Homo sapiens: one gene and its partner. Changing the gene in region 1 together with any one later gene gives a genetic interaction. Each region holds a gene or a part of one and is shown in the gene's direction. Other genes may lie near its edges. The genes, in order: AHCYL1 and GBF1.

Region 1 (15,920 bases):
AGGAGGGCTTGCCAAATAATATGGATAGTACCATATGTACAATTTTAAAATCCACATATGAAAATATGATGTGGAGGTGAGGTTCCCCCTCTCTACACCTGGAGTGTGGGAGTCAGTAGAGGGATAGAAAATTTTCCACTTTTGTTGCATGTACATCTGTTTGTTTAGATTTTTTTTACAATGAGTATGTTTTACTTTTGTAGGTTAAAAGATTATTTTAGGCCGGGCATGGTGCTGATGCCTGTAATCCCAACAGTTTGGGAGGCTGAGGCAGGAGGATTGCTTGAACCCAGGAGTTCAAGACCAGCCTGGGCAACATAGTGAGACCATATCTCTACTAAAAATAAAAAATTAGCTGGATGTGGTGGCACACACCTGTAGTCCCAGCTCCGCAGGAGGCTGAGGTGGGAGGATCAATTGAGCCTGGGAGCTTGAGGCTGCAGTGAGCTATGACTGTGCCTCTGCACTCCAGCCTGGGTGACAGAGCAAAACTGTCTCAGGAAAAAAAAAAATTAAATTAAAATTTAATTTGAATTATTCAGCAACATAAGGTAATACACACTCATTGCAGAATTTTTGAAAAAGGAAGCAAGCAAAAATGAGAAAATAAAAATGATCTGTAATCTCACCACATAGAGGAAATATGCATTTTGGTGTTTACCTTTCAGTTATTTTTTCTTTATATAAATATATAATTTCATGTTTACCAAAAAATTGGGTCACACCGTGATGCTGTTTTCAAAACTGCTTTCTTTCAGCTACCAATATTATCATGAACAACTTTCCATGTCATTAAATATCCTTCTGCCAGGCTACACAGTATGGCCTTCTATGACTGTACGGTATTTTTAGTCACTTACTGCTGAACTTTTCTTTTGCTGTTGTAAGTGTAACATAGCGATTAATTGAACATTTAGTGTGGCATAATAACATGATTGAGAAATCAGCCATATCTGGTTTTCTTGGCTGTGGACTCTTCAGAAAAGAATGTGAAGCATTTTCTCCACATCCTGCCAAGGGGGCAGCCAGGGCTTCAAGTCCAGGATGTCAAAGAGGTTGGAAGGTGGTTTTTCCATTGAAAAGCAGAGTAGCCTTACCTGTGGGCAGTGACTTCCAGCACCAGGAAAGAGGGTGGGAGATCACGAGTGTCCACAAGTGGCAGCAGTTGAGATCCAACTGGAACTCTTCCCTCCACCCTGGGGATGGCACAACCTGAGGTAGAGCTGGGGGTGAGGGGGCTTGAAGAAAGCCCACTAAGTAGCTTGCTGCTGGGAGAGACCACTGTGAGTGGGCAGCTCCCCAGCCTGCCTGGAGAAGCAGTACCCACAGACAGGGAGGACCTGCCTACAGTCTGAGGGGCAGCCATTAGCAGTGGCGAGCTCCACTGAATCCCAACCAGCTGCTCCAGTCCTGCAAGAACGAACTCTTTGTTTATTTGGGGGTTTTTGTTTTGTTTTATTTTTTGTAAAATCCAATGAGCCAAGAGAGGAAGCCCTAAAAATGATATTAGACTTTTCACCCACTGTGGATGGGATTTGGGACCAGATTTAAATAAATGTGGGAAAATAAAAAATACTGGCATGTCTTTCCCATCAAGTGTCGTGAAGCTATTCCTTCCTCATTAATACGCAAATATGCAACACCATGAGGAGCATTCATGTGTTCATCCATGATCACTGGTTGTTCATTTCATACTTCTCCTTGGACCCCTAAGGGATGGCAGAGTCTGTTGAGTCAGCCAACTCCACGGACGAAGCCTCCTGGATTAAGGGACCTGAACTGAGCCAAAACAGATAAGGGTGGGAGAACCTGGGTCCAGTCCTCGCTGTGTCACGAATGTGCTTTAGAGTCTGAGCAAGTTTCTCACCTTTCTGTTCCTAAATAGAGGATTAACAAATAGGCTGCTCTGTAAAGCTCTGGGAATCTGTGGGTCATTGGCACTTGGGAGCCCTCAGCCTGTAGGGAATCTAGACAGACTCACACATCCACAGAAACCGCAAGCAGCTCCACATTCTCCCATGTGCTCCAGTCAAACCAGATTGCTGGCCATGTTCCAGAGCATACCCTACATTTCACACCTCCATATTCTTGCTCTTGCTGTTCCCTCCATCTAAAGTCAGTGTTCCTCATGTCCGCCTCTTGAAATCCTAGTCATCCTTTAAGATTCAACAAAACCAACTCTCCTTCACAAGCCTGCCCCATTCCCTCTACGGGGAGCGTCTTTCTTTCTTCTTCCACGGGCATCTTCCGCCTCTGACTGCAGTCATCTGGACACATTTTGCAAGCTCCCTGAAGGCAAGGGCTGGGCCTCATTCATCTCTGCATCCGCCACGGGACCCAGCTCAGGATCCTGCAAGCTATGGAGCAGCCAAATGTTTGTGGAACTAAAATTGGGACCTGGGCCTAGGCTTGGATGAAGTTTCGGGCTATTTCAGGCCCTGGAATGGGTGGGGCGATGAAGGGAATGTTGGGGTTGGGAGATAAAAGACCCGAGCGGGAATGAGGCTTGGGCTTCACTGACTGGAACAGCCTCTCCATCCCCACCCCTTGATGTCTCCTCATCTAGCCCGAACAGAAACAGGGAAACACTGTGTACTTGCGACTCTCTTCCATCAGTCTCTTGAGCCCTTCCAGGCCCTCACATCACCCACTCCTTCCCTGAACCCCTATAAAGAGGTCAAAGGGCCAAGCGGGTCTGCAGGAAATGGCTGAAGGGCCTTTGTGGAGAGGCCAAGGTCCAAGCTCCTGGTTCTGGCATGAGATCCATCGTTGCCGTTGGTCTAAAATATTGTGTTGACCCTCCGTCAGGACTCTGTGGAAGTGTGGAAGTGGCATGAGCTCATGTTGGAGGCTGAAGAGCTCTGTCCTCACTGCTGCAGAATGGGACAAATGCTGAGGGTGTGGAGGACAAGGCTTAACTCTTTCCCCGGGGAAGAGGCCAGGCTTGCGTTGTGCATGTGGAGCCTTCAACCCTTAAAAGGCTGTCCAGGCAGAGCTCCTGGAATCGTGGAGGAGAAGGGAGGTTTTCAAGACCAGGGTTGAGAGGCATGAGGAGCAGCCTTGGGAATCCAGGTTGGTTGCAGGGAGGGCTTGAGAGGGTGAAATGGTTAATGGTTTGTTGAAAAACAGGGAGAGTCCCTCCTCCAGGGGCCCAGCTGGCTGCAAAGCCAGGAGCAGAGACTCCAAGGGTGATGCAATGGGGCCCGCCCTGCACACCAGAGAGGGTGAGGAAGGCAGGCTCCCACCCCGCAGCAGCCTCCGCACCACCAGCAGCCGACCACTCTCCTCTGGCTCCAGCAAACCAGCCACAGGCCGGGCCCTTCAGGGCAAAGGGGCAAGACCCTGAGCACCTGAGCTTTGGGAGATGGCAGCTTCTGTCTGTTCCACTCCATCAGCCCCAGAGCCTTTCCAGTCAAGACAAATCCTCTACTAGCCCCCAGCAGGCATCCTGAAGGAGTACCCACCAGGATATCAAACCATCCTGGCCACCTGTGTCTCTGCGATTCCAGGACTATTTCCAGTCCTAGAGGCAGGTTGCAGGTTATGGGTAGAGAGGCAGGCCTGGGAGAGGCAAAGACAGGCAGTGTCCTCCCTTATCCCAGAAGCTGACACTTACATCTCACCAGCCCACTCACCATTGCCCTGGGGGAGCACATCTGCCAGGGAAGCAGTATCCCAGAAGCTTCTAAAAGACTTGGGGCTACTTCAAGGGTGGGTCAGCATCTCTGAACTCGGGAGAGAGACTGCTCTTCCTTCCCTAGCATGGGGCTAGACACAGCCTCAGAAGCAGGGAGAGGAAGCATGCCACACACTCTGGAAGACCGCTCAGGGTGGGGCACATGGAGACAGCAAGGAGAGGGTGTGCCCTCTCAGACAGTACTGGGAACCTTGATTTTCTGACAAAGCTCTGCTATGGACTCTAAGCCCCATGAGGACAGGAACTGTGTCTGTCTTGTTTACTGTGGGATCCCTGGCGCTCAGCACAGCTCCCGAGACAAAGCTGATGCTCAGTAAATAACTGACTGGGCAGAGGCCAAAGTCCAAGGCCAGTTTCACAATTTCTACTTTTTTGGTAAACTCTTCACCATCCCCACCTCCATCCTCCCCGCTCCCATATACACACTTAAGAGCAGGAAAAAACATACAAAGTAGCACAAACAGTCATCAGAACAGATTTCTTGAACATTGTTTACAATTGGTGGATGCCTTCTCAGTATGAACTTTAATGTGTGGCAGCTTTGGGAACTGAAGTAAGATACATCAGGATCTCTGGTCCAACCTAGAAAAAAAGCATGTGAGGAAGTTCCAAGGGGCTGCTGGTCACACAGCCAGACCCCGGGGCCAGGTTGGGCCAGGAAAGCAGCAATTTCTCATGGCTGGGGCAGTGTCAGCCCTCCCTTTTGAGGAAACACATCCACATGTCAACAAGTACTCAAAACCAGCAATGACAATCCTTTCCTGCAGCAGACGGGTTTCTGCTTATTCCTGTCATTCCGGGAAGCGGAGCGAAGAGAGAATTCCAAATTCTCAACAATAGCTCCTTTGCCCTCCATGGTTAGCCTGGACCCACATCTTAGTACCTTACATTTGCACAATATTTGCAACTTGTTCAAAGCTTTTGCATATTTATGATCTTACTGGATTAGGTCATTACAAGCCCCAGATGGAGAGCTATCAACCTGTCTTGCATGAGGAAGAGGAGGTCAAAAAAGGTCCAGGATGCCAGTGGCCAAGTTAGTAGCAGAGTGAAGATTTGAGCCCACATCTCTGCCCAGTTTTCCTGCTTCCTCACACCATGCAGCCTCGCCATGAGTCAGCTATCACGAGTTCCAGACACAGGACCTCAGATCCTCTAGGGCCAAAAGGTGCCTCCTTATCCTGGTCCTTGTTTACAGTCATTATAACTGCCCCCACTACTTACATTTTTGCTCCCTTTCTCTGGCAGGAGCTGGTGCTGTGACCCATCTTCGCCTGTTTTGCTTGAAAGCCATCCCCACACCCACTCCGAAACCACCTCCCTCCATTCCATTATATTGCACTAGTTGGAAACAATTCAAATACCGAACAATAGGAAAACAGTTAAGCAAACTCATAAAGCAATATGACAGAAAGCTTGGAAAACATGGACAATAATAACAAGTATGTCAATGCTCTCCGTTCGGGTCATGTGTTTTTGAAATATTGTAATTTGATCAAAGCAGAATACAAAAGGACATGAACCTACCAATCACAGGTATGTAAAAATGAGTTTCTGCAAATTGCTAAGAACTAGGAGTGAACTTAACAAGATGAAAAGAAATTTTTAAAAAATCTTCATGGATTTTTCTTTCCTATAATGTTCAAAATGATAATAAAGAGTAAGTGATCCTAATAAATATGACAATAATAAGCAGAGGGGGAGACAGAGAAGGAGGAATGTTTTCCCACTGGAACTGGAGAAGGGGAAGGAGAAAAGGCTGAGGGTAGGGAGGGAGGGAGCTCGGTGGGAAGTAGGAGCCAGGAAGCCTGAGGACCAGCACCCACAGCCACAGAGGTGCAACCGGGAGCCCACCCTCTGGGGGTCCCTAAGGGCCAGCGAGGTAGGTGACCAATCTGAAGTGGTGCTCCAGGGCACCTTTCACAATAATTACAATGTCAGTGGTGCCTCCTAGAGCTGTGCAAGGTAGCAGTTCTGGGACAGAAAGAAGCCTGGAGCTGGAGGGTTTGCCCATGCTGGAGAGCTAGAGACAGAGCCACTGCCCTCTTCACCTTCTTCCGAACTTCCATTGTCACCCAAGATCTCTGCAGTTTTTCTGCACTTTCATTCCAGAGGGCTAACATAACACCTGGCCGACAGGAGGTGAAAGGCCTTCAGGAGGAGCACAGCCTCCCCCTGGTGGGGAGCCTGACTGGCAGGGAGCGGGCAGTTCCAAAAGGTGCCAACCTGGGCTCCCCTGAGACTCAGGGACAGTGCCCTCCACAGACATATCAAACTCAACATGTCCCAAGCTGACTCCTCTCAGCAGCCCCCCTCCACCCCTCTAGCCACACTTGCTTCTCCTCCTGTGCTCCCCAGCATGGCAGACATCACCACCACCCACCCAGGGCTTAACACGCCCTGCAGGATCTGGCCCTGGCTTCAGCGCTCACTTCACCCTGCTTTGCACCCTGTGCCCCACCCACATGGGGATATTTACAGTTCCCGTAATATGCCAAGCTGTTTCCATCACCATGCCTATTCTCAGGCTGTTTCTTCAGCCTGGAGAATCTTCCCTCCCTTGCCCAGCTGCTTATCTGTCAAGACTCAGCTCTGGCAGCATCTCCCTCTGTGTCATCCCTTTGCCCTCCACTGCACCCCACCCCCATCACCTGTCCCCACGTAGAGATCAGCACCTCAGCTTATTTATCTCTGTAGTCCCGACTGACATCTAGCCCTGCTGCTGGCACTTCTTCGGCACTCAATATATATTTTATAAATAAAAGAACAAATGACTGAATGTAGAACATCAATTTGGGGGTGGACAAACAGTGAATCTGATTAACAAGACCAAGCCCACGTGTGGTAGCCCAATGCCACTACATTTCTGGTGACAGCATCTCCCAATTCACCACTGCCCTTAGGCCACTCCTTTCTAGCAAGGGTCTTCGCTCCAGGCCCTTGGAGACTTCCCACCACCACACACAGCAGGTGCATCTGTCTTTGGGTCCCTGTTCTTCTCCAATTGCCCCGTGGGGGGTCTCTCACCTGTGTGTGGATGCGCTGTTCAGGGCAGTGAGCTTGCCAGTAGAGGTGCTGAGTCAGGTGGGTGGGTAGGCTGAAGACAAGTCATCTCTTGGCATTCATGAGAAGCAATCGCCTTAGCTGTGCCATGTGAGGCTATCTTAGGATGGGTTTTGGGGGTGGGAGACAGGATGCAATGATTCTCACGGATGTTATGTTGTCACACTCCCTGGCTGGGTGAGCTCTTTGCTCTCCAGCACACACGTGATGGAAGGGATGGCAGCCACCCATGCCCCCTGCAGTGGCTGGTTTCCAAGAATGTCCCGGGCCCCTGGCCTCACTTGAACCACATAGGCCTAATGCTTTCCACCAGGGTAGGGGGTGCTGCCCTTCCCCTTTCCAGTCTGAGTCCCCGAACTCTCCTACATCAGCTCATCAACCTCCCCTCAGGCCAGCCACTCAGGTGAGTGGAGTCTGACCTGCTGATCTCCTTCTTAGCCCAGACTGCTAAGGTACTGCATGCTCTAGGCCTGGCCCTGTCTGTCATCCTCTGTAGCAGCAGCAATAGCAGACAACACTGTGAGCCTGGTGCTAGGGCAGACCTGGTCCAGGAGGAGTAAAGACTGAACTTCAATCTCCAGGAAGCTCACAGTCTGGATGCTTAAATGCACAGCAGAACTGGGGGACTGAGAGACAACATGTTTAGACAAAGTGAGTTCTAAAAATCAAATCCAAAAGACAGATACACTGATGCTTCTCTTTAAAAAAAAAAAAAAAAAAAAAAAAAAGATCTTCTTAAGTCACACATTTTTCTACTATAGGGACTTGAGATTTCATCCCTGGTTCCAATGGGTTCTGCCTCGAGTCTTTGGGCAGGCATCTCTGATCCCTGGGCTCTGCCAACAGTTTGGGCAAACCCACAAGGATGAAAGCCACTGTGAGCCTTATGTTCAGAGAGTCCTTAGTGCACCAGGTGTGGTTCCTGACCCCTAGCTGAAAGATGTCAGTCTGGCACCCTCATGGATGAACCTGGTATTCTGGTCTCCATCTCTGTTCCCGTTCTGCTACAGTGATGCCCCTGACAGGGAAGTGTGAGTGCTCAAAAAAGTGAGCAGATGAAAGAATACAAACAGTTCAAGACCAAGGTCTGCAGATGTGCAAAGGGTGCATTCTTCCAGGCACTTCTACAGCCCTTTTCAAACAGACAGTCTCATGAGGCTAGGTGGCTGGAACACAGGATTCCCTGACTAAGACTTTTAGGGCCCTAGAGGTGAATATTTCACACTCTCCCCAGCCCTGAACACAAATCAGTGGGGAAAATGCCATTTCAAACCAAAACTTCCTTCTTGAAAGGGTATGCCCTGTTAAAAACCTGGGAGGTTTCTGGATGTTAAAAGGTGGTCCTGGCCAGGCGCGGTGGCTCACGCCTGTAATCCCAGCACTTTGGGAGGCCGAGGCAGGTGGATCACGAGGTCAGGATCCGAGACCAGCCTGGCCAAGATGGTGAAACCCCGTCTCTACTAAAAATACAAAAATTAGCCGGGCACGGTGGCGCACGCCTATAGTCCCAGCTACTCACTCAGGAGGCTGAGGCAGGAGAATCACTTGAACCCGGCAGGCGGAGGTTGCAGTGAGCTGAGAGCACTCCAGCTTGGGCAACAGAGCGAGACGTCATCTCAAAAAAAAAAAAAAGGTGGTCCTGGGGAGGAATTTAGGGAAAGGGCACTGGGAAGACTGGAATTGCTCAGCACAGCAGAGGAGAATCTGGCTTCCCAGAGTCTATCAAGGAAGGAAGGATGAGGTGCAGAGATGGGAAGGGAGGAACAGGAGGAAGCTAGATTAGATGGCAATGGGCTAGGGAGCGTGGTGGGATCTTGTGGCCATTGAGAAATCCCCGGGTGGTAAGACAGCCAAAATAACTTTTCAGAACATTTCAGAAATGTGTTCTTAAATTGTTTGCTGTGTGATGTAATCTCTCCCCTGTGACCCACAAACCTTTATTAAAAGTTTTACTACATGTTACAGCCTTATTTTGTAGTTGTTTAGCATGGGGTGGGGGTTGAAAGGAGAAGCGGCTGAATTGACCCCAGGAGCTACAGAAACAGTCACAAGACCAGAATAGTGAATAAAATGCCAGACAAGGCAAAAAAACTAGAGCCAGAGGTGACCATGAAAATCCAAGTCCTCCCAGTAATGGACTTTCCACAGGACATGGTAATTGGAGCCAATGTCATTTGAATCTCAAAGGACAAGCTACCTCAGCTGACATTAGGATACAAGCAGGTTTTGCCTCTCCAGCTGAACTAAGCCTTGCAAAACATAAAATGCGTCACATGTCCTTTTGCCAGCAGGGCCTCAGCACAGGCACTGCACATAGTAGGCCCAGTAAAAGGGTGTGAGCAGTCCATGAATGTCCTGGATGCCCACTGAGAGCTGGAAGGGTCTAATGCTTTGGTGGAGCAAGGACCGGAAGGCCATTCTGGCTGGGGACTTCTCCATCAGCTCTCCTGGTCTCCACCCTCATACCCATCAGCCCTATCCCAATGAGGGTTTTGTAAACAGGCAAGGCCCAGTCGGAGATGGTGGTGGAGGAAGTCACAAAGCGTTGTGCAGAAACCAGACTACTCTGAGTCAGTTCTGCCCCCTATGAAGTCAAAAAGACAGGCACGGCCCCTTGGGAAGGAGCTTTAATCCAAAGGGCCTGGGGCTGGGCCAGTGAGTGAGTGGGCTGTCTCGAGCCCCGGACATTTCCTAGGAATCGCTGTAGGATGTGTCGTGTGGGGCTCTGGTCTTTGCTCCCAAACACCCCTTTCATGCGCCTCTGAGGCCTTGCCAGGAACCCCGCAGCCCAAAGACCCTCCGTTCCGCAGCATCGTTGCATGAACCTCGCGCTGCTCCCAGGGCTGATGGTGCCACCTGGTGGCACAAAGGGTCCTGCTCACCCTGGGAACTTCGCTCTCGAGCGGGAGAGGAACGGCTTCTGTGGCCCAGCCCAGCGTGGTGACGTCACGACAGAGTGCCCTTTCTCCCCGCCTCTTCCCCCTCCCGGGAGCTGCCAGTACTTGACGTGGCGTCACCGCCCTCTACCCTCGCTTTGCGTGCGTGTTTGCGTACAGCGGAGGTGGCGGCGCGGGCAGGTCGGAGCTCGGAGCTGCTGTTCTGGTTCTCTTGTGGCCGCCGTCGCTGTCCGGCTGCCTTGGGCTGCCGAACAGACAAGGCGTGGGCCACAGCACCTCAGAAGCCGACGCAGCTCGACGCAGGGGCCGGCAGGAGGGTGGGCGATCGCGTGTCGGAGGGCGCCGCGCGGGCAGGCGGGCGGGCGCCAGAGGGGGAAAGAGGCGGGGGCGGCGGGTCAGCCGCTGGCCGGGCCGGCCGGGGAATGTCGATGCCTGACGCGATGCCGCTGCCCGGGGTCGGGGAGGAGCTGAAGCAGGCCAAGGAGATCGAGGACGCCGAGAAGTACTCCTTCATGGCCACCGTCACCAAGGCGCCCAAGAAGGTGCGGGGGCTCTGGGTGGCGGCGGGGGCTCGGGCTCCGGCCTCGCGGAAGGGACGCGAGCAAGCCCGGGCTCTGGCTAGTTTGGGACTTCTGGGGGTGACTGGGGACGGCGGAGGTGATGTAGGGGGTGGCGGCTGTGCGGCCCCAGGCCTCTCCCGGGCTGAAAGGCCGCCTCTGACCTCGCTTTCCTTTGTCCCTCGGCCCAAGTCCTCCGGGATCGTTTTGAAACCCGACAGGGCCAGGCCTTAAATTTGCGACTGACTTTTCCTGGATGAAGGGCCTCGAAGACGAGAGTGGGAGGGGGTGAACCAACTCAGCTGACCCTTGTGACCAGTCCGGGGGCATGGGGTGTACAGAAAATCTCCCTTCAGGTGAGTGGGTAAATCTGGCAGAACTTCCATCAAATCTTTGGGAGCAGTGGCCGCTTTATCCAACAACTGCGTGATAGCTGGGAGGCAAGAGAAAAGAATGCGTGAAGCTAGCTCTGATATACAGGTGAAAGCGATGAGGGTAACATGAAACTGAAAATCTATGATTTTCACTTTCTACAGCATTCCAATTACTTCGAAATATGTAAGAAATTGACATTTGGAGGTTGGTGACAGCAGACACTGTCATGGATACAGGTGGATCCTAGAGTCATGTGAATAGATCACTTAGGCATCCCTGGAGAAAGGAGCTTGGGTGGGTTGGAGTAGTGGGTGGTAAGGGAAGATTGCTCACTCTTGACTGTACTTTTGAGGCAGAACAAGTTTGATCTATTGTGCTGTAGGTTGACTCAAAGGACACCCTTCGAATTCTCTCATAAATGGCAACCTTTGGAGATTTTAGTCTGACTAGCTCTCCGAGTGGTGGAATTGGGATCCTTATTGCTTTCTCATCATTTACTGCCAACCACATCTTGATTTTCCATACACCTGGCACCCAGTTAGCAGTAGACCAGAGAACCTTTACAAAGAGGTGACCTTCCTGAAGCCAGTGAGAACCCAGATAAATGTCTCCCTTCTTTATAAAGACAGAGTCTTACAAAGCTGTCTCTGCCTGCATCCAGTGTTTAATGGGATGCAGGGCTGAACAAAGCAAGGGCTGCAGGAATAGTTAAGTCCTTGAGGCTTCAACTAGTTAAGCTGTCTTAAGTGGGAGAGATGGCTCTTTTTTTTTTTTTTAAGTGAATTAACCTGCCACTCCAGAAATCAAATGCAAGATCAAAAAAGACGAGTCGCCATTGTGTGCTTTCGCTGTTTTCTCACAAAATTAAGAATTTAATTCCTTTAAAAGATTGTGGAAGATTCCTTGACTCTGAGGCATCTGATTAACTTTAGTGCTGAGAGTTCAGTTGACTGCTTTGTTGGGACAATGACCCTTTGCAATCTGCACTATTCTTTGGAGAAACAGTCACAGTCCTTATAAGCAGAATGATTGAGGGTGGGACCTTAGATGAGTTAGAGGAAAGAATGGGAAAGCCCTAATACCTGAATTTCCCAGACTCTGTCTTCTTTGCTGTTACTTGCCTTTATGTTAGTAAATCTGTATTCTTGAAAGTACCACTGTTGATAAGACAAAGTCTATATCGTAGATTGTAAAAACTCATTAAGGCAGGGATTCTTGTTCACCTTTGTATCCAGTGTGCCTAGCTTTGTACCCAGCATACAGTAGGTACTCAAATATTAATTGCTCACCTGGCTAACTAGTAACTGAGATGTCCATGTGGCCACCTACCATGAATAACTATCCCTTTTCCTCTCTTCTTCCCAGGAGGAATATTACTAATGTGTATTATTGTCAGGCCAAGTGCTGATGATTTTAGACTTATATTGCATTAGCTAAAAGAAGCAGGCTCTGCCAGGAATGTGGGAAGACCCTGTTTTAAGTTTCCATTTACCAGTAAATGTGCCCCACCGTGTTTCTTATTAATCTTTCTCTTCTAAGTTTTATTCTTTAGCATTTACGTAGTACTTTGTAATAAAGTGTTTCATGATGACTAATTACCCTTTCCCTAGTGATGATAAAAGACATTTATTAAGTTAATGGATCAGTTGAGGACTAGTCAAGGTCACATAGCAAGTCCTAGGCAATCTGTTTTTCAGAACTGCTGAATTGAACATTAAGACTTAAGTCACTTTTGTACCTCTGCCATGTGTTGATAACGTGAAAGCATGGGAAAAGTAAGAGGGAAAAAAGTAACTTGGCATGGTACTTAATGGTGTGAGAAAAAGACCTCTTCAAATGGTGCAGTCCTTCACCTATGAGAATTCTACCCTGGCTCTAGACCAGTAATCCTTGGATTATTCTGAAGCCCTGAGGCCCCTCAGGAATTGAGGATGTTCTTGATGCCAGAGGATATAGGTTACTTCAGGGTGACCTTGATGGTCCTCAGTTAGATCAGATCCCAGTGTCACTTTCTGGTCAGCTTTTATTCATTTTGTTTGCTTTGTTTGAGACAGAGTCAGCTTTTATTCATTTTGTTTGCTTTGTTTGAGATAGAGTGGATGTCCATCAATTAAAAGCATAAATATCTAGATTCTTCAGCTATAATCATGACTTACTCAGTTTTGTATGCCAAGGTCTATCACACTGCTATGAACAAAATAGGACTTGTTGGTTTGATTGAAGATTTGAGATGTCTGGGTGTCGAGAAGTCAACTAAAGGGATATGACCTTGAGCAAATTAATTAGCTTTTGTACCTGCATCTCCTCATCTGCCAAATAAGTGCCTATTTTTTTTGGAACAGGTGGAGATAGGGGCATGTTGGGGAGTTAAGATAGCAGTGTAATTTTTTAAAAGTCTATTCGTATATTTATATTCTTTCTTCAATGGGCATTTGAAGTGGCTTATAACACAGAACATATATGTGATATAAAAGGAAGTAAAAACTATAGAAAGAATGAAAAAAATATTGTTAACCTCGAGGGCTAAGATAGTTGATGAGGTTGATCACATGCAACTTGAAACTTTTAGCAGCCAGAGGATGAAAAGAATCATAGTTACAGTCTCCTTAGCAGGCATGGGAAATAATACATGTCAATTCCTCAAGGGGACGACTTTTCCTGACACAGAGTTCTAAAATAATTTTTCACGGGAATGTCTTAATAGCTGTAGTGTAATTCACATTGTAAGGCTTGTTCACGACTGTCACTGGTGATTTCAGATGGTATGGCTAGGAAAATTTGAGGTAAGAAAAGGAATCCTTGAGTTTTAAGAGTTAAGTGTACCACAACTGAAGAAGATCCTTGTTTAATGTTGGCAGTTATCGGTCAAACCAAGTAAGTAATCTAGTTCCCCATAACCACTGGTTATTTATCCCTCTTTTGCTGCTACTTTGTGTAACAGGAGTGGTAACTGTCCTTGGACCTTTGGAAATTGACACTGTGTCAAGTTGATTCTTTTTTCATAGTGTAAACCCAAATCTCCAACTTGTTGGAGAGCTCTTACAATAAGCATGTTTCTCCGGAAGGCCTTTCAGAACATTTGCTGTTCTCTGAACTTCTGAACATTAAAGGCACTCTCCAGAGTGATCCATTAAACATTTTGACCTAGGATCTGTGGAGTCAGACCCATCAGCAAAATGTGGGGAAGGAGAAGAGCACAGAAGAAACTACTTTTGTTTATAGGATATTCTTTATTTGAATGAAGCTATGTGCCACTAATTCATCAAAAGGGTCAGCTGAGACTTAGGAAGCACACCAAGTAGAGCCCCAATGGGTACAGCTTGGGTGTTAACCCGATAGGTAAAATCCAGGTTTCTCCTTTTGTCATCAGAGTTATCTTACGGTTAATTTTTGGTGCAGTTGTATAGAATTTACGCCAGGACTTGTCAGAATCACTGAAAGGAGATTTCATAGGTTGGCATTTCCTATCTTCACATCATTAGTATCTCTTGATTCTCCTTAGAGTGGCTGCTGTTGTAGTAGCAGTCTTTAAAACAGGAGTTGGGGTGTAAGAAGATCCTCTTTTTAAGATTTCTCCGCAGGTATTGATTACATCTCTTTTTCTTGTTTGGTTTAGTTAGTTACACTCTAGTTTCCAAATTACTTTGTTCCAAGTTTCTTTAGACATTTAGCTTGTAACAGAAATCTGTTAGAAGATTTCTAGATCAGTAGTTGTCTAGATCTTTTGCTGCCAAGGTTACAAATGTATACCTTTTCTTTTATCAGGAGTGTGTCATTTGGATCCAGAGTGTTTTACCCAATATAATATTCTTTTTTAAAATTTATTTTTATTTTTTATAGAGATGGGGAAATCCCTGTGTTGCCCAGGCTTGTCTTGAACTCCTGGGCTCAAGCGATCTTCCCACCTCAGCCTCCCGAAGTGCTGGGATTACAGGCAAGAGCCACCACGCCCACCCCAATATAGTATTCTTGGAAAGTTGTCTATAAAGGATATTTTGATACATGGAATCATGCAGGTCTTTAGTTGCCTGTGACTCCTAGCAAGTGTACTCTGCCACTCCGAGTAGTTAATGATCTGTAAATAAGCACTTTAATGCCCTCTTGGGGTTGTTTTAAAGGAACTGGCGAATAAAGGAGAATCATTTATACGTACCTGTTTCTCAAGTTTGGGAATGTGAGTATTGCATTTTTATAAAGAATGTCAACCCTGATTATACTGGATACATTTTATTATAATTTAGAACTGAATAGTAATTCAGAACACATGCTAATGAGGTGCGTCAGAAGCATTCCTGTCATGTGAAGGGCAACCTACGTGCATAGACCAGAATTTTTTCTAGCCTGAAATCTGAGAATCCCCAGTTGAAGACAAATTCTTACCACAAATTTTCCTTTTGATTATTGTCAATACTATCAGTGCCTATTGTGTAGTAAGCAGTTAATAAAAATTCACACAGAATTGCAGTTGCCTTTCCTTTTCTGATTCCATATTTTCCTTTGACTCACTCAAGTAGTTCTTTTGTCCCACTGTTGCTTGGCTGTTACATAAGACGCCTTTAACTTCCCGTTTCTGTTCCTAAAACTGTGAGTAGTAGTACAACATAAGGTAAGCACTGATTTTTGGAGTCAGTTTTACCTTTAGTCTCTACCATCTAATAGTTGTGGGACATTCAACAAGTGACGTCCTTTTCTCATCTGTAAAATGGGGAACAATGATAGTGCTATCTATATACATGGTTGAGAGGGTTAGCATTTAGTAAATAGTAATTAGTGGGGTTTTTTTGTACCTAGAGTGACCATATATCCTGGTTTGCCTGGCGCAATTCTGGTTTATACCTGTTATCCTAGCATGCAGTCCAAGGAGTGCCTCCGTAGCTCTGAAAGTTACCCTGGTTTATGTGGCCACCCTATTTATAACTCTCTGGATGATGCAACATGATAGTGCAAATGAGAGCCTAATTTTGAAATGTTAAAGAGCCAAAACAAAGAAGTTTCTATTGGAATGTCTTTTCAATAAGAAAATTTTTTTCTGACAAAAATGTTATTTTATATAGAGCTTACAGCTACTGAACCCCAAAACATTTTGTTAACTACAGGGGTGGGGTGTGTAGACAGAGATCTTAGAGCTTTTGATGGAGTTGAGATGTCCTCTACCTTACCATTCCCCATTCATCCCCCGTAATACATAATGCACTCATAGAATGTGGGTATTTGTCAGACACTGGGCCAGTCTCAGTCCAGGAGTTTATTTCCTTAAACTTCAGGTGTTTGGGGTTTTCCCAAACTAGAATCCTTGAATTACATGAAATAATTGCAAAGACTTCTGAACTG
Region 2 (15,079 bases), on another chromosome or scaffold:
CTCACCCCTTCCCCATTAACAGGGGCTTAATGCAGGCTGCACAGGATGGCATTAATGTGGTGGATTAGCCTAGATTGAGATGTGTGTCACTTGGCTGCTCTGGATTTATTAGGAGCCTTTCTCAGGGAGGTGCAGATGGGCAGCAGCCTGTATTTGCACATGGTAATGCCCCCTTCAACAGCTCAGAGATCACAGCTGTGCCCCCACTCCCCACCCCACCTCTCAAGCCAGGTTGGGAGTGGAACCGAGGTCAAGGCAGGAGGTTGAGAAAGAGTCCCTGCTCTTTCCACAGGCAGAGGGGTCTAGATCTTGGACCTTTTATTGGGTGTGAAGAGACAGGGCTGGAGGGAACCCAGGACAGGAGAAAAGTCAGGCCAGAACTGGAGGTGTGCTCAGCTTACTTCCCCTTCCAGGTCGGGTCAGGTCAGGGGGTTTGGAGCTGGAAAACTTTGGCCAACAATGCTCTGATGGAAGGGAGATGTCCCTGAGAAGGAACTATGGTAGCCTTGGCTGGGAAGATGAGGGAGGAAGGGTTAGAACTGAGAGTTGGAAAAAGGGGTGCTCTGAAGTCTCCCCTTACTTCATACCCCTTACTTCATACCCAAGATGCCCTTGAAATGCAAATCATCCCCCTGACTTTTCCAGAGGCCATGGAAGCAACATGGAGCTGGGAAAAAACCCAGAGAGGGGTTTACCTGTGGGAAAAGCAGTCCCACCCTTGCCACCTAGCCTTCCAGTCAGCTTTGGCTCCCGACTTGCAGTTTTCCAAATTACCCTGTCCCCGGCATTCCATACCTGCATCTTGCTTTCACTTTATTTCAGCAGAGGGAGGCAGGGTGAGAAGGGATATGGGCGAGGAAAAGCCGAGGCCAGAAAGCCGAGTTCAGGCTGCGTGTTCCCAGAGACAGACAGACACATGTGCAGACACACACAGGCCCCCACTCAGACATAATAAGCACTTGGACTTGGAGCTAGGGGCACACAAACACACACTCTCCCACACATGCGCTGCCACATCCAGGCAGACAGACACGTACCGTCACACAGTCTCCTCTCTGTGACAGGGACAGCTGCCGGGGCTGTTTTGGAGCTAGCCATTATTACCCTTCCCCCACCCCCCACCCCCCCACCGCCTCCCTGGCCCCTCTGAACCTCAGCTCTCAGTCCCAGGAGCTAAGGACTCTGTGTGGGGGAGGAGCAGGCCAAGGGGCCAGGGGAGTGTTCTGCACTGGATGCTGCTGAGTGAGGAGAAGGCATGAGAATGCTGGAGCTAGAGGATGGGGTGGGGAGGAGGGGCAGAAAGTGCCCAGGCCCCTCTCAGGAAAGTCATCTGGTATAGCCCAAAGAAATTAGGTTTAGAGTCAGCAGATCTAGATTCACGTCCTGGCTGTACAACTTACTAGCTGTGTGTCCTCGGCAAGTTACTTTACCTCTCTGAGCACATTTCTTCATCTCCGAAAGGAAGTTCATGATCCCTTCCCTACTTGCCTTCAGTGTTGTTATAAGGTTTAGATAAAAACATAAACATGTAAATATGAGTAGGGATAAAACTCTACCTGAGTAGTTTTTTTTCCTCACTCATTAAACAAATGTTTATTTAGCACATTCTATGAGCTGGGCATTGAGTTAGGCACTGAGGGTGGAGTGGTGGCTAAGATCTCATCCCTGTGTCTGCCCTTCCTTGAGTGAGTCATCTGCCCAGACTCTGTATCCTCCAGTGAAGTGTTTCCCTGGTGAATGAAGGTGAGTACGCTGCATTACTGAGAGATAGGCAACACATGCTGTGAACACTCTGTCCTGAGCATAGGTGACCCAGTCAACAAGGTAACAGCAAAATGGGCAGAGTAACCCAAGCTGGGAGCCACTTTGGGGACAAGGGACTGGTAGAGGAAAGAATGAAGCCTTTAGGCTCTTGCATGGGCTAGTAACAGCAGAGAGAGGAGCCACAGCTGAGAAGGGACCTGACCGTGAAACTGAAGAGAGAAGGAAAGAACAGTAAAGCCAGGCAGGCAATAGAGAGATGGAAGGGTGGGGGCATAGACCTCTAGCCGACTCACGTCCGGGTGGGCTGGTCAGGCAAAGGCTGGGGGCGCCAAGCTGTTGTCTGAGCTGGAGACAGGCTGGCTGAAGATTAAGCTCCCCCAAACTGCTGGAGGTCAGGAAGCTAGGGAGTTGGGACTGAGGCCAGGGACTTCGCCTCACTCAGTGGATAGGGAAGAACAAGCAGTAGGTCTGGAAGCCGCAGGATTGGTTGATGCTAGTAAGAAATGCCCAGGCAGGGACAGAGAGAGTCAGAAGATAACAGTGATGGTGAGTCCAGCTCTGGAAGGGGGCTGCCGGCCCCACCCCTAGACTTTTTGCCACACCCTGCTAGGGATGTGAGGGATGTGTGGCCCAGTCCCACTGGTATCAGGGTGGCAATCCCAGGCCCAGGGAGTACAGAGGGCCTACAGGTATGCTCTGATTCTGTAGTACAGGCTGGAATTACAGGAAGCCTGGTCATGGACTGCAGCAAGAATGAAATATCCAGGACATATGAAGGTGGAGAGCAGATCCCAGGCCAGGGAGGCCACAGTGGGGAGGCCATGGTTTCCAAGAGACACAACCCCATGGCAATAAGTCAGCTGTCATGTGGACCCACTTAAGTCCTGAAGCCAGAGAGGTAGACCAGGGACATAGTGAGAGCCCACAATCGGTTGCAATAATAATGCCTGAGGCTGGAGGCATAACCTGGAACTCAAATAGGAGAAAACCTTTCTCATTCAGGGGCTAAATGGAGAGATGAGAGGAGCTGGAGTTGTGATGTTTTCATCTTATAAACATGAAACTGAAGTGAGGTCCTTAAGTGGACATGGCTGCATGTTCATTAGGGACGCTGAGCACCCAGACTCTATGGTTTGCTGAACTGCAGTGTGCAAATGGGAGCAAATCGAGACACATTTGCAGCAAAGATTTGAAGCACTCAAGTTATTAAGGGACGATTCGGGGATCAGAGAAATGACTCCACAGTCTTCCTGCTCTTCCTTGCTTCCTTCCTTCAGCAAGTATTAGGTGTTAAGAGGGATCCCAAGAACAGTAAGGCAGAGACCCTATCTTGTAGGAGTCTGCAGTGTAGGGAGGCAAACAGAGCACAGGATGGAAAGATGGACCGCATGGGTCTGACTCCCAGACTGTGGGAGATCAGAGAGAGGGAAGCCCATGGAAGGTGGTACCGAGTGTTGGGAGCTCAGAGAATATAGGCACGTGACTGAATTGGGAGTTCAAGAGGAAGAGAAGGGGTATGGCATTCTAAATAATCAGCAGTGTTGGGAATAAGCTGGCAGGCTGGGAGGGCAGTGGTGAGCCTAGGTTAGTCAGAGTCTCAGTGTAGGCCACGGGAGATCTGCAGAGAGAAACGAGTCAAACCGAGGGGGCCTCCAATGGGGGACAAGGGGCAGTGGTTCAGATTTGACAAAGTCTAGGCTACAGTATGTCCAGCTTTTTCATCAAAAACCGCTAAGATTCACACTGAGCAACAGCCCTGAATAAAGAAAAAAACCCTAAGACCAGTCAAAAACAACATCTACTAGAAAACAGAAGCATGACCTGAAACAGCTGCCACTAGTATGAAATTGTTTTGAGGTCACCAGCTTTATGTTAAAAATGCAAACAAATTTTTCGTTCTATTCCATACTTTAGTCATGGATTATAAAATATTTTAATATAAAAATAAAGCTTTTTTTAATATAAAACCCCCCAATCTTCAAGTGATATCACCACACCAGGAAGATGGGCCCTGTTTAGACTGTGTGTCATGCCTCCTCCACTCCCGTACTGCCCTCCTCCCCCGCCCACCCCACTATGAGAAGCAATGCACCAAGCAGTAGGGGTCACTGGAGGCTTGTATCCAGGGGTGTGACAAAAAACAGCATCTTTGTGACCTTTATTTGACCATGGTGAGCATAAAGGGTTGGGCAGGGAAGAAATAGGAAAGGAGAAACTATTAACTGAAAGGTGTAAAAAAGGCCCCGGGGCAGGACAATGGGAAAGGAGAGATAGAGTTTTGAAAGTTATTCCTCTCTGTCTTCCCCCAACTCTTACCCCACTGATGATCTTTTCCTTTTCCTCCCCATCATTCTTTTCATGAGTCCCTGGCAGTGGCCATGGACACCCTAGACACCCCAAAGCTCAGGACCTAATGGATCCTTCAGGTTAGTCTAGGAGGCATCATTTAGTGTGAATGGAGAAGAAAAGATTCTACTGGCCCCATCCTTCAGTCACCACAAGTCAGCTCTAGCCTGCTGCGTTTGCCCTCCCGTCCTGAACCTGAGTCCTGGGCCAATGTTCCCATCCCTGAGCAGGAGGCAGGCAGAGATATTTGGCCTGGTAGACAGGCTGAGCATTTGGGGAGCTCCCCAGAGTTCTCAGACAGCGGCAGGGGTAGTGGCCAGCATCTGAAGTCCACGATAGGGTGGCCCGTCTGTCATTAAGATCCCTCCTATGGCTGCATCAGGGATGAGATTAGGCTGCTCTAAGTCTCAGCCCCACTTTTCCAAACAAAGATTCTGCAGCTTGGGCATAATAATAGCAGTGCTTCTTATTTATATGATGCTCCTCCATTTGCAGAGGGCCTTCACAGACATAATTTCATTTAACTCGCACAACTGCCCTGCATGGCTGGAGTGCCTATCCCCATTACACCTCTAAGAAGGCAGGATGCAAGGTTACACAGTTTGAAGAGATTTGAAGAGATTCAAACCATCTAGTTCTGCTCTTTCCATGCCTCACTCCCTCCACCCTGTAGCCATTTGTGACTCTGACATGTGCTGATCCTTCCAAACCCTGAAGGATTCCATTTCTACTTCCTGCCTCTATCATCTCTCTGGAAATGAGCTCTGGAAGTATGCTGCCCACTGTGTGCCAAAGAACATTTTTCTATTCATCCTGAGCTTGCATCACTCCAGTTCTAAAAGGCCCCCTCATCTCCAGTTTCAAGATTTGGGGAGCAAGCAATTCTTCTGCATATCTAGGTCTTTTATTATGCTGTAGATTTCCATCCTGTCTCACCTTCCAGAGGACTAAACTTTGAAATTTGCCCTCACCAGCAACCCCTGGCTCCCCATTCTGCCAATCATTCTCTGACCCTACTCTAGGCCCATGACATTCTTCCTAAGAGCCAGTGACCAGGCATGCGTTCAGTTACAAGGCTTTATGCAAGGGTGGGAAAAGGTTCTGTCTTTTGTTTCCAATCACCTTCATTATGATACCACCTCTTTGGCCTTTTTGGCAAAAGCCAACTTTGAGCTAAAGTCTTCAGGGAACCATCTGTAATGCTTTCCCTGTTCCTTTCCTGACACAGAGTCCTTCATTTCACCTATAATTTCAGTGATTTTATGGGAGCACAGCAATGGGAGCACAAGCCCCTGAAAAGTGTATCAGAATGTGATGGGGATAATTGTGGTGTGTCTTTATATTGATCAAAATAGGGCAAATGAAAAACAAAAGTTGAGAATCCTAGCCAGTAATAAGCAAACTTTAGAACTGAGGAATGGACATGGGAGTATGGGGAATACGTATTGTATGTCACTCACAGGTGAAGGGTAAGAAAGGTTGAAACCACTGTTTAGATTACTCATTGCTAAATACAATGCCTTGCACTTGTCCTTGTGAAAACTCAGTCCCCAGCTGGGCTATCTTGCTCACTTATATGGACTCGTTCTCCCTGTTCTGTCCTCTTCAGCATAATTGAGCTGTGGTTAGAATTGGGGTCAGGGTGGATGGTCACTGTATGGGCCCAGCAGAGTCAGGGCTGTATCCCAGCTGCAGGGAAAGTAAACCCGGCTGTTAGGTAGGGCCAAGATATCCTTCCCAACCAGACTGAGAGGGCCAGATAGCCCCCTGTTGGACTCCAGAGTCTGGATTCCATGAGCCTCCTTCCCACCTCCGCTCAGCCACCAGGGTGGTGTTGGGACTGGTAGGGCTGAGGAAGAAAAAGGGAAACAGGACCACAGGATTTGCTTTGCTAATGGGGCTGTAGTTTTCTCTTCTGGCCTGGGCTCCTGCCCACTGTAGGGAAGGAGCCATTGGTCGCCTGATACTCCAGCAAGGAGTCTGGGGGGTGTCTGGTTAATTGTATTGGAATTAGGGGGCAACTGAGGCTGCCAGGGGCTTGTACCCAGCTCCTTCCTGTTTTCCCATTGCCTTTTGTCACCTATTCCTTCCTTTCCTGGTCTTGATTCCCACTAGCAGGCTCCTCATTGGCCTTCTGTCCTCAAATTTGGATTCTGGAAGTACAGAGTGATGCTCTGATCTATTCTGAATTGAAGGGGGCATGTGTCCCAGCCCACCTCACCCCAAGGCCAGGTTGTAGCCTTTACTCTCGCTCCCTGCTCACAGCTTCGCAGCCCGAAGGAGCTGAAACAAGTTTGCAAAGTGTGAGCTGGGATTTGAGGTGACCCACCGCAGCCGACCCCATCGCACACGCAGCAGCTGGGCAGGCGCTGCTGGGTAGACGGACATGCCACCCAGCCAGGGACATTCTGTCCGCCACTGCCAGACACAACTCCCGCTCCGGAGAGACCCACTTCGCTACCCGGACATTCTGTCCGCTCCGAGCCCCATGCACCGCGGACATTCTGTCCGATTCTGAGGCGGCCTCAAGTCAGGACCCTTCTGGGCCCAGACACCCCAAGCCAGATCCACTATACCCGCCGCCTGGTCACTCTGATCCGCACAGCGGCCATCTGACTCAGTCGCGGCCGGGCTCTCACAACACAGCTCCTATTCCAACTGCGGAGCAGCTGGGAAGAGAAGCGTGTGCGACCAGGCGCACCCCGGCTCCCAGCCCCAGGAGTCTGAGCCTAGGCCGAGGGGCATCGGGCGCCGTCAACTGCCCCCACACTGGGGGCCGCCCCGCCAGCTCCCCCGCTGGCCAGGGCCTCTGTAACCCCTTTCGCTCCCTGGCCGCCTGCCCCGTGCCCTGGGATTCCAGGGCGCTTTCTGGTAATGGTTTCCAGACTCCCTACTCCCTGCCTCGCGAAGCCCCTATCCTGGTTTCAAGTCTCCGGCTTCGTTCCGGATCCTCTGAGTCTCCCCCTTCCCTATCCCCTGGTTCTTACCCTGAGTTTCCCTTTTCCCAAGTCCTGGCCCCAGGTCTGCAGTCCGCCCTCCCATTCTCGACCTGTTCCCAAGGCACCGGAGTTCAGCTGCCCCAGGTCTCGTTTTAGGGATTCCAAGGTCCAGCAATAGCTCCTCGGCCCCATGAGCCCCTGTCCTTAGAATGGTCAAACACTCACAGTGCGTCCTGCAACAGGCAGACTCCCAGTAGCGGCGGCTGCGGCGGCGATCTAGAGGGCAGGCAGGGGCCAGGGGCCGGGCACCCGGCCGGAGTGGGGGCCGCCCCCCTGCTCCCGGGCCGCCTCTCCGCTCGGGCGCTCCTGGACTCTCGGAGGGAGTGAGCCTCACCGCGTACTGCCACCCCCAGCCGGCGCCCATTCACTTTATGGCAGACCAGGGCGCCCCCAGCCCGCCGCGGCGAGCCGCGCGCGTCAGGCCCCGCCCCTTTCCAGCTGCCCTGCTGGGGCTCCGCCCTTTCCAGCTGTGGATCTCCAGGCCCCGCCTTTGAGGGAGGGGTCTGGCCGGCGAGACGCCAAGAACCCCGCCCTCTGGCCAATCAGAAGCGCTCTTCAGCAACTCGGCCGCGCCCCTCCCCACGTGGCAGAGACCGCGCTCCGGCTAGGACGCTTAGGCAGAGCCAAGTGGGCGAGAGTAGAGTGGTCCCGGTAGCCACGGGTAAAAGGGATCGGCTGGCAGCGAAGTGGGTTGGGCCGCTACCCCGAGGAAAGTGGATCGGCGCCAGGTGGGAAGGCGCACGGGGCCGCCGGGTCTCAGCGCTCAGACTTCTCTGCCACTCAAGTTTCGCCGATTTTCTCCACTTGTCGCTGTCCGTCTCTCCTCCCTTTTGTCTCTGTTCCAATCCTCCCACGTCTCGCCTTTCTTTCCTCTTCTTTCTCCTCAGCCGCTTCGCTCCTGCTGTTTACCATTCTCCTTCCTCTGCCACTTTAAAAGACTCATTTCTCTTTCTCTCTGCTCCTCTTTCCTCATATCTTTCCTCTTCTTCATTTCCCCCTTCTTCTCCAAGGAAGGTGACTTCGTGGAGACAGCAGGGTTTGGAATGATACAAACCAAAGTAGTATTCCAACGCTGCCACGAACTGCACCATCACTGAGTGAACTTGGACGAGTAACTATCATCTCCCTCCCCGCGCAAAACAATTAAGAGGAGGTTCCTGCTGGATCTCAGGGCTTGGGCTGGGCACTCCAAAGGCATTGCCTTTCAGTCTGTACCCTTGTCTTGCTTAGGCTGTGCTCTCCCTCCTTCAGCAGGGCTGGTTTCCCGCTGGTGGTACCAGGTTAAGTCCTGTGGGCAAGGTGTGGCCTTGGTGCCTGCTGGTTAGGAATTTGCAAGGGACAGGACAGATGACCAAGGAACATCCTGGCAGACTGTGACTTCGGCCCTCTCTGACTTAGGCCTCAATTTCCAGGAAACAGGCTCCTTCTCTTCTCCCAGTTAGGCTATGTTGCTTGGGTGCTCCGAAGAGCCTAAGCCCAGGCCAAACACTGTGGCTCATGCCTGTAATCCCAGCACTTTGGGAGGCCGAGGCGGGCGGATCACAAGGTCAGGAGATTGAGACCACCCTGGCTAACACGGTGAAACCCCATCTCTACTAAAAAATACAAAAAATTAGCCGGGCTTGGTGGCGGGTGCCTGTAGTCTCAGCTACTGGGGAGGCTGAGGAAGAAGAATGGCGTGAACCCAGGAGGCAGAGCTTGCAGTGAGCTGAGATCGCGCCACTGCACTCCAGACTGGGCGACAGAGCAAGACTCTGTCTCAAAAAAAAAAAAAAAAAAGAGCCTAAGCCCAGTCACACAATATGCCCCTAAGGCAAATCTGAGCAGTCATGTCTTGACTGTTCAGTGACTCCCATTGCCCTTAGGATAAAGGTCAAGCTCCCTAGCCTGGCATACAAGACCTTCAGGACCTGACCTTGTCTTCATCTCCAATTTCCTAGTAGTGTCCTGCACACCTCTGGCCCTTCCTGTGAAAGTAACCCATCTTTATATTGTCAATTCCTACTCCTCCAATGTTCCACTCAAGTCTTATTTTCTCTGGGAAGCCTTTTCTGAACTCTCAGTTTAGCCCCTTGCTCTCATGACCCTCAGTGTATACCTTCTATTACACCACCCACCATATTGAAGGGATCAGCTTATGTGTTGTCTGCTATGATAATAAAATTTAGGAGGGTAAGGACCATGTCTGTTATTCCCAGGCATAATGTAGAATCTCAATAAATGTCACACTGAAATCTATGAGGAAGATGTTCTGCCTGGTAAGATGATGATTAGTGGTTAGGAGGGACTAGGGAATTGTCATCTCTCTCCTCCCCATCTCTATTGCACAATCACATGCTTTTAGAATGATGAATTTCTGGAGGTATGTAGAAGTAGATATTGGCGAGCAGAAATTTTTGGCCCACTTAGAGGATTTTCCAATCGGCTTTCCAGGACCTCTCAATCTGAGACAGGCCCAGGACACCAACTCTCAGTTTTCAAATGAAGAGGAAAATGGCTTTGAGGTAATGTGGAAAGAGGTGCTATGATGGTATATCCTCTTTCCCTGACTCTCTTTGGGTGATAGAGGCTAGATCCTCAGCTGGACCCACCGACCAGAAGCCCAATGTGCAGGTGTAGGAAGTTACTGAGGGGTTCTTCACGTCTGATATCTGATGGGTGCTTTACACTAGAGCATCGTGGCCAGGTGTGGTGGCTCACACCTGTAATCTCAACACTTTGGGAGGCTGAGGCGGGTGGATCACCTGAGGTCAGGAGTTCGAGACCAGCCTGTCCAACATGGTGAAACCCCATCTCTACTAAAAATACAAAAATTAGCCTGGTGTGGTGGCAGATGCCTGTAATCCCAGCTACTTGGGAGGCTGAGGCAGGAGAATCACTTGAACCCAGGAGGTGGAGGTTGCAGTGAGCCAAGATCACAGCACTGCACTCCATCCTGGATGACAAAGCAAGACTCTCTCAAAACAAACAAACAAACAAAAGACAAAAAAACAAAACAAAACAAAAAAATAGCGCATCGTAGCACACGGATGGTCTTTGGATGTCTGGTTTTGAGACTACTTTCCTATGTGGTTAGTTATAGAGCTTCCCTGGACTTGGGTCGTCCATAATTGGGAGGATGTATGGAAAGAATTAGGTATTTTTTTTTCACTGCCTCCCAGCAGCTTCTCCAGGTCTGCAGGGACACTGGGGCTCTAGTGTCCCAAATAGGCTGGGAATTTCATGATTCAGTCTCCTAGGAGAAAACCCATCCTCTTGTCCTCTTCTCACGCATTCTCACTTCCAGGTAATACAGGTAATTCTAAATAGCTTAGTAACCTCTATCATCTCTTGCAAGGGGAGGAGGCAGCTGGGGGCAAGACAGTGAAAACAGGTGGGCATCCAACCCTCAGGCCCCTTAGCGTTTCTAAGGCAAACAAGAAAGACTTCTGTTTCCTATCACTGATGAGGTGGGCTAAGCTGCGTATTTAGCCTGGTGGATAAGGCCCGTCAAAGGCTTGGTATGAAAGGCAGACCGGGAGTCAAAGCCCGATATACTAAGGCATAAGAGGTGACAAAAGGCGATGAAAAGAGTTGGCCTGGGGGTGAGGAGACCCAGGGGTTCGTCTCTCTGCTCTGCTATTTACTAATTATGTGAACATGGGCCCAGCCTTCCACCCTGGGGCTGTTTCCTATAATGTAAAATGAAGAGACTTAAATTAGATATCCAGGGCTTCTGCTACGTCCCATTTTCTCTATTTCTGGATGATGGGAGTGGGGCAGAGGACGCTGAAACAGAGTTGGGACGTGACAGACATAACTGTGAGAAGCCACGACAGGGAAGGTGGACAAGAGGGCGAGGAGAGCAGGGTGTGGAATAGATCGCTGGACTTGTTTTTAGAATGAAGGGAGCCCAGAGCTGCCTCGAAAAGGAGTGATTCCTCAAGGGGCATGGTCTTGGCCCAGGTAACTTTGATAATACGTGGACAGGGGAGTAGGGATGCCCGCTCAAGTTCTCAAAGCGGACCCCGCCCCTTTCCAGCCAATTGTAGCCTTTTTCCCCATAATGCCCAGCAGCCACTGCCAAACCGCGCACTGCAACCGAACTCTACCTAACTCCACCTCTCTAGCCGCCCAGCCCAGTTCCTCATTTTTTATTGGTTTTTTAAACTGTCACTCAGAGAGTACTCGTATCCGTTGGTTGTCCCCTAACATACCCTTTCTTTCCCTTGTAATCGCGCTTCTTTAGGCACTACCCGCCTCCTGAAGCCAATTTCCTTTATTCGATTGGATAGTCGGAATGCTACTTTTCACGGTGCAAAGCTATGATTGGCTGCGCGCGGCAGGGCTCGCGCAGTTACCAGGCAGCGGGCTAGACTGAGGCTAGTTACCACGTCAGTGAGCTGACAGGGAAGGTACCCGGCTCTACTGCCCGTCCCGGACGACTCATCCTGGCGGACTGTGCAGTCCCACCCTGACTTCGGCCTCAATTTCCAGGAAACAGGCTCCTTCTCTTCTCCCATCTGCTACCAGAGCCGGGAGAGCTGCTCGGAGACGCCTCCGGGGTGCGGGCTGGACATGAGCAGCGGCTGCCGGTCCTGGGACTAGGCCCCGCCATTTTGGATCCGCTGACAGGTCAGCGAAGTCTCTTCCTAGAGTTCCGGTGTCGTGAAGGCCGCCCTGACATCGCAATAGGGAATTAGTGGGAAGGGCCCTTAAATTGGGCGAGCCAAGGTGGGCTAAGGACGCAGCGGACAGGAATAAGACGAGGGAAGGGTTGTTGTGGGAGGGAACAGGGAGGTATGCAGGGGCAAAGGTCATGCCTCTGCCGCAGGAGGGGCGATTTCTGCTCTCATTACTGATCCTTTGCAGGTGCCCAAATCTTCTGTTTTCCCAGGCTTGACCTAGTATTTAGCTTCTCCTTTCCAGCGCTTTCTGCATCCTGAAGAGCCCAGTACTCAAAAGCTGAAAGCAAACCTAAGGAGCATTGTGTCTACTTTTATGGGTTTTCAGACTTTAGATGTGAAAGTCTCTCTAGATTCTGTACAGCGTCTACTTCTTTGTGATTGCCTCACTAATACAAAGGAACTGCTTCATTAATAATGATGAACTAGTGCACCCTAGAATCAGGTTGTCAGCAGAGGGACGTGTGGAAGGCTTGAGGTTATAGCAGCGCAGGGAACTGGGCTATGAGAAGGCTTCCCTCTTACAGGACAGCTCAGCTGCCAGTCTGGGTCTGTATGTAAACACTATACTTATCTTCTGGGCCTGTTTGTTCCTTTATACAATCTTTCACAGGCATTCTTTTGTAGTGTATGTTTTTGTTGACATTTTTCTCTCAGATCTTCACTAAGGAGATGAGGCTTAATCATAAGGAAACCACTCTATTATGACATATTTGACTGACAGCAGAGAGAGATATTTGAATACTGGCAAAGTTTGGTATTGTCGGCCTATTATGTTTAGTGGGCAAAAAGAGTCATGAGAGATTTTCAGCCAATTGTAGGGTCAGAGCCCCAGAGTGAATGATGGAACATAACCCTAGAGAGTAGTTTATGGCACTGTGATGACCTTTGATAAACTGCTGTGTTGTAAAGCTATAAAAGTCCACCAAGGGTAACGAATGCTTTTAGAAATAAGGAATAGTGTAGATGGTGTTTTTTAATGCACAATGTGGAAACTTGTGCATTAATTCAGGTATAAAAGGCACTCTAGGCCCTGTGGAGGATACAAATGGAAAGGTCTGCTTTGGGACTGCTCAGTTAATGCACTTCTTAAAAGTAGTAGCATGTATGTGCAGTGGCCTAGCTAGAGCATGTAGTAGGTTAAGAGCAGGATCAACCTAATACCTTTTGGTATGTAGTGGGCACTCAATAAACGTTATCTCTATCTGGGATTAGTTTCAGTATGTGATCAGGACTTGTGGCCTGCTTTTGGCCCTGGCAGTCAGGAACACTTTGCACTTTTGCATGATGAGGTAGTAACAAGGAGGATCAAAACCTCATAGTGTCAGAAGAGAAAACTATTTAGGATCTTGGAATGACTAACTCAATTTTTCCTACCTTTGTCCTTATGAAATTGAAATTTCATAATTTCCCTTTTCCCTTCCTACCTTCGTCCTTATGAAATTGAAATTTTTGTGTGTGTTGGGAGAAGGGGGATGGCATTATTTATGCTTCACCTGTGTTGATTTAGATGGAAATGGTACAGGAAACTATTTGCATTTTAACTTGCTGATCTAAGTTGTAGAATTCCTCCCCTCTCCCCGCCCCCAAGAAAGTAGTTGAACGCAGCAAATGAAATGACATACCTCAGGAGGTACCCAGGTTTGATGATCCTGCCTTGCTCACTTGGGCCATTGCCCTGTTGAGTTGATATGCTTTGCATAACAGGCAATCTAGTCTCTGGGTAGGCAGTGTGATCAATCCAGGATCCAGTCATCCTCAGTTGAGCCTAAGGGTGACTATAGAGGCATCAAAACGTTTTCTCTTTCTCTCTCTTTCTTTTTTTTAATCCTAAATGTCATTTCTAGATAGGAATAATTTTCTAGATAGGAATAATTCCCACTCCTACCCACAAATCAGAAAATTCATCCTTCAAATACAAGTCCCAAGCTTGTATTTGAGCTTCTTTTTAATGGTGTTTGTAGACAGTATGTTCCAGTCTTGACAGTGATGCTCATTGGCACAGTGGGAACTCAGGCTATAGACATATCTCCTCAGTAGCTGGGCACCAATCCCAGTTTCAGCTCAGAGTTCTCAAAGTTACACTACTATTTTATTTCCCTCTTTTCCAGAAGTCAGGATGACTGCCACTTTCACATAATAACCTCATTGATAGGGTACTTAGACTGGCTGCTGTGGGCAGCTAAAGAGGAAGAAGACACAGCTCTTGCTTTTGAGGAGACTCTATTTATAGAGTACTCACTGCAAGGATCACCCTAATCTTTGTATGACACTTCTCATTGATTGATCACACACTATATCCCTGTGGCTCTGTGTGACTGATTAGAATGATTCTGTTGTTGGGTTAATGGTGGGATTGAATTTAAGGGTGTATGTTTTTGTTGACATTTTATCCTCAGGCTAGAAGAGCTATGTAAATATAATGAGCTGCTGTTTAGCTGTTACTCTTTTTTTTTTTTAATATTTCAGTATGTTCAACTGCAGTTGTTTAACTAAATGAAAATATAATAAAGCAGTGTGCTGATTTGGAACCCCAATAATAATAGAAGTGATCATAGAAGTGATTATTTGTTCTAGTAGTAGTGGAAATTACGATAGATGCAATAGTAGTGTAAATGATCATGGAAGTATGATGGCAAAGTAATGGTTTGCCAATCATATAAACCAGGGGTTACGAGCTCATGTGCCTAAATGCCAGGCAGGTAATGTAAATGAGTTAATTGAGTCCCATGGGAATGTATTAGGATTAGTGGGGACTGTTGTGTACTGGACAACCCATGCCTTTATTTTTTTTTTGTCTTTAATTTTAATTTCTTTTTATTGAGACAGGGTCTTGCTCTGTCACCCCGGCTGGAGTGCAGAGGAACGATCACAGCTCACTGCAGCCTTGACCTCTGGGCTCAAGTGATCTTCCTACCTCAGCCTCCCAAGTAGCGGGGAACACAGATGTGCGCCATCATGCCCAGCTAATTTTTTAATATTTTGTAGAGACAAGGTCTCACTGTATTGCTCAGGCTGGTTTCGAACTCCTAGACTCAAGCAGTCCTCCCACTTTTGCCTCCCAAAGTGCTGGGATTTTAGGAATGAACCACCATGCTCAACCCATTCCTTTATTTAGAAGAGCCAACTGCTCCTTTTTCAGCAGATTGTTACTGTTTTAGAGTGCAGGCACAGAATGACCACTCTTTCTATTTTTCAGGAGAAACTGGAAATTTAGATCATTGTGTTTTCTAATTGTTGGAAACTAGTTAAAAGTATTTTTAAGCCTTTTTCAGGCCAAAGAAAATATGTCTGTGGACTGGATTC

Evidence for each region.
Region 2: changes in AHCYL1 (region 1) and GBF1 together harm fitness less than expected from each alone (positive genetic interaction), as found in Homo sapiens cells (one study listed by BioGRID).

What each region holds. Positions count from the first base shown.
Region 1 is NC_000001.11:109,974,974-109,990,893, forward strand, and holds the start of AHCYL1 (S-adenosylhomocysteine hydrolase-like protein 1), read left to right. Parts: upstream 1-9,791; 5' UTR 9,792-10,079; coding exon 10,080-10,199; exon of another isoform or gene 10,200-10,570; intron 10,571-15,920. UniProt on the Homo sapiens protein: Multifaceted cellular regulator which coordinates several essential cellular functions including regulation of epithelial HCO3(-) and fluid secretion, mRNA processing and DNA replication.
Region 2 is NC_000010.11:102,234,059-102,249,137, forward strand, and holds the start of GBF1 (Golgi-specific brefeldin A-resistance guanine nucleotide exchange factor 1), read left to right. Parts: upstream 1-11,473; 5' UTR 11,474-11,723; exon of another isoform or gene 11,724-11,822; intron 11,823-15,079. UniProt on the Homo sapiens protein: Guanine-nucleotide exchange factor (GEF) for members of the Arf family of small GTPases involved in trafficking in the early secretory pathway; its GEF activity initiates the coating of nascent vesicles via the localized generation of activated ARFs through replacement of GDP with GTP.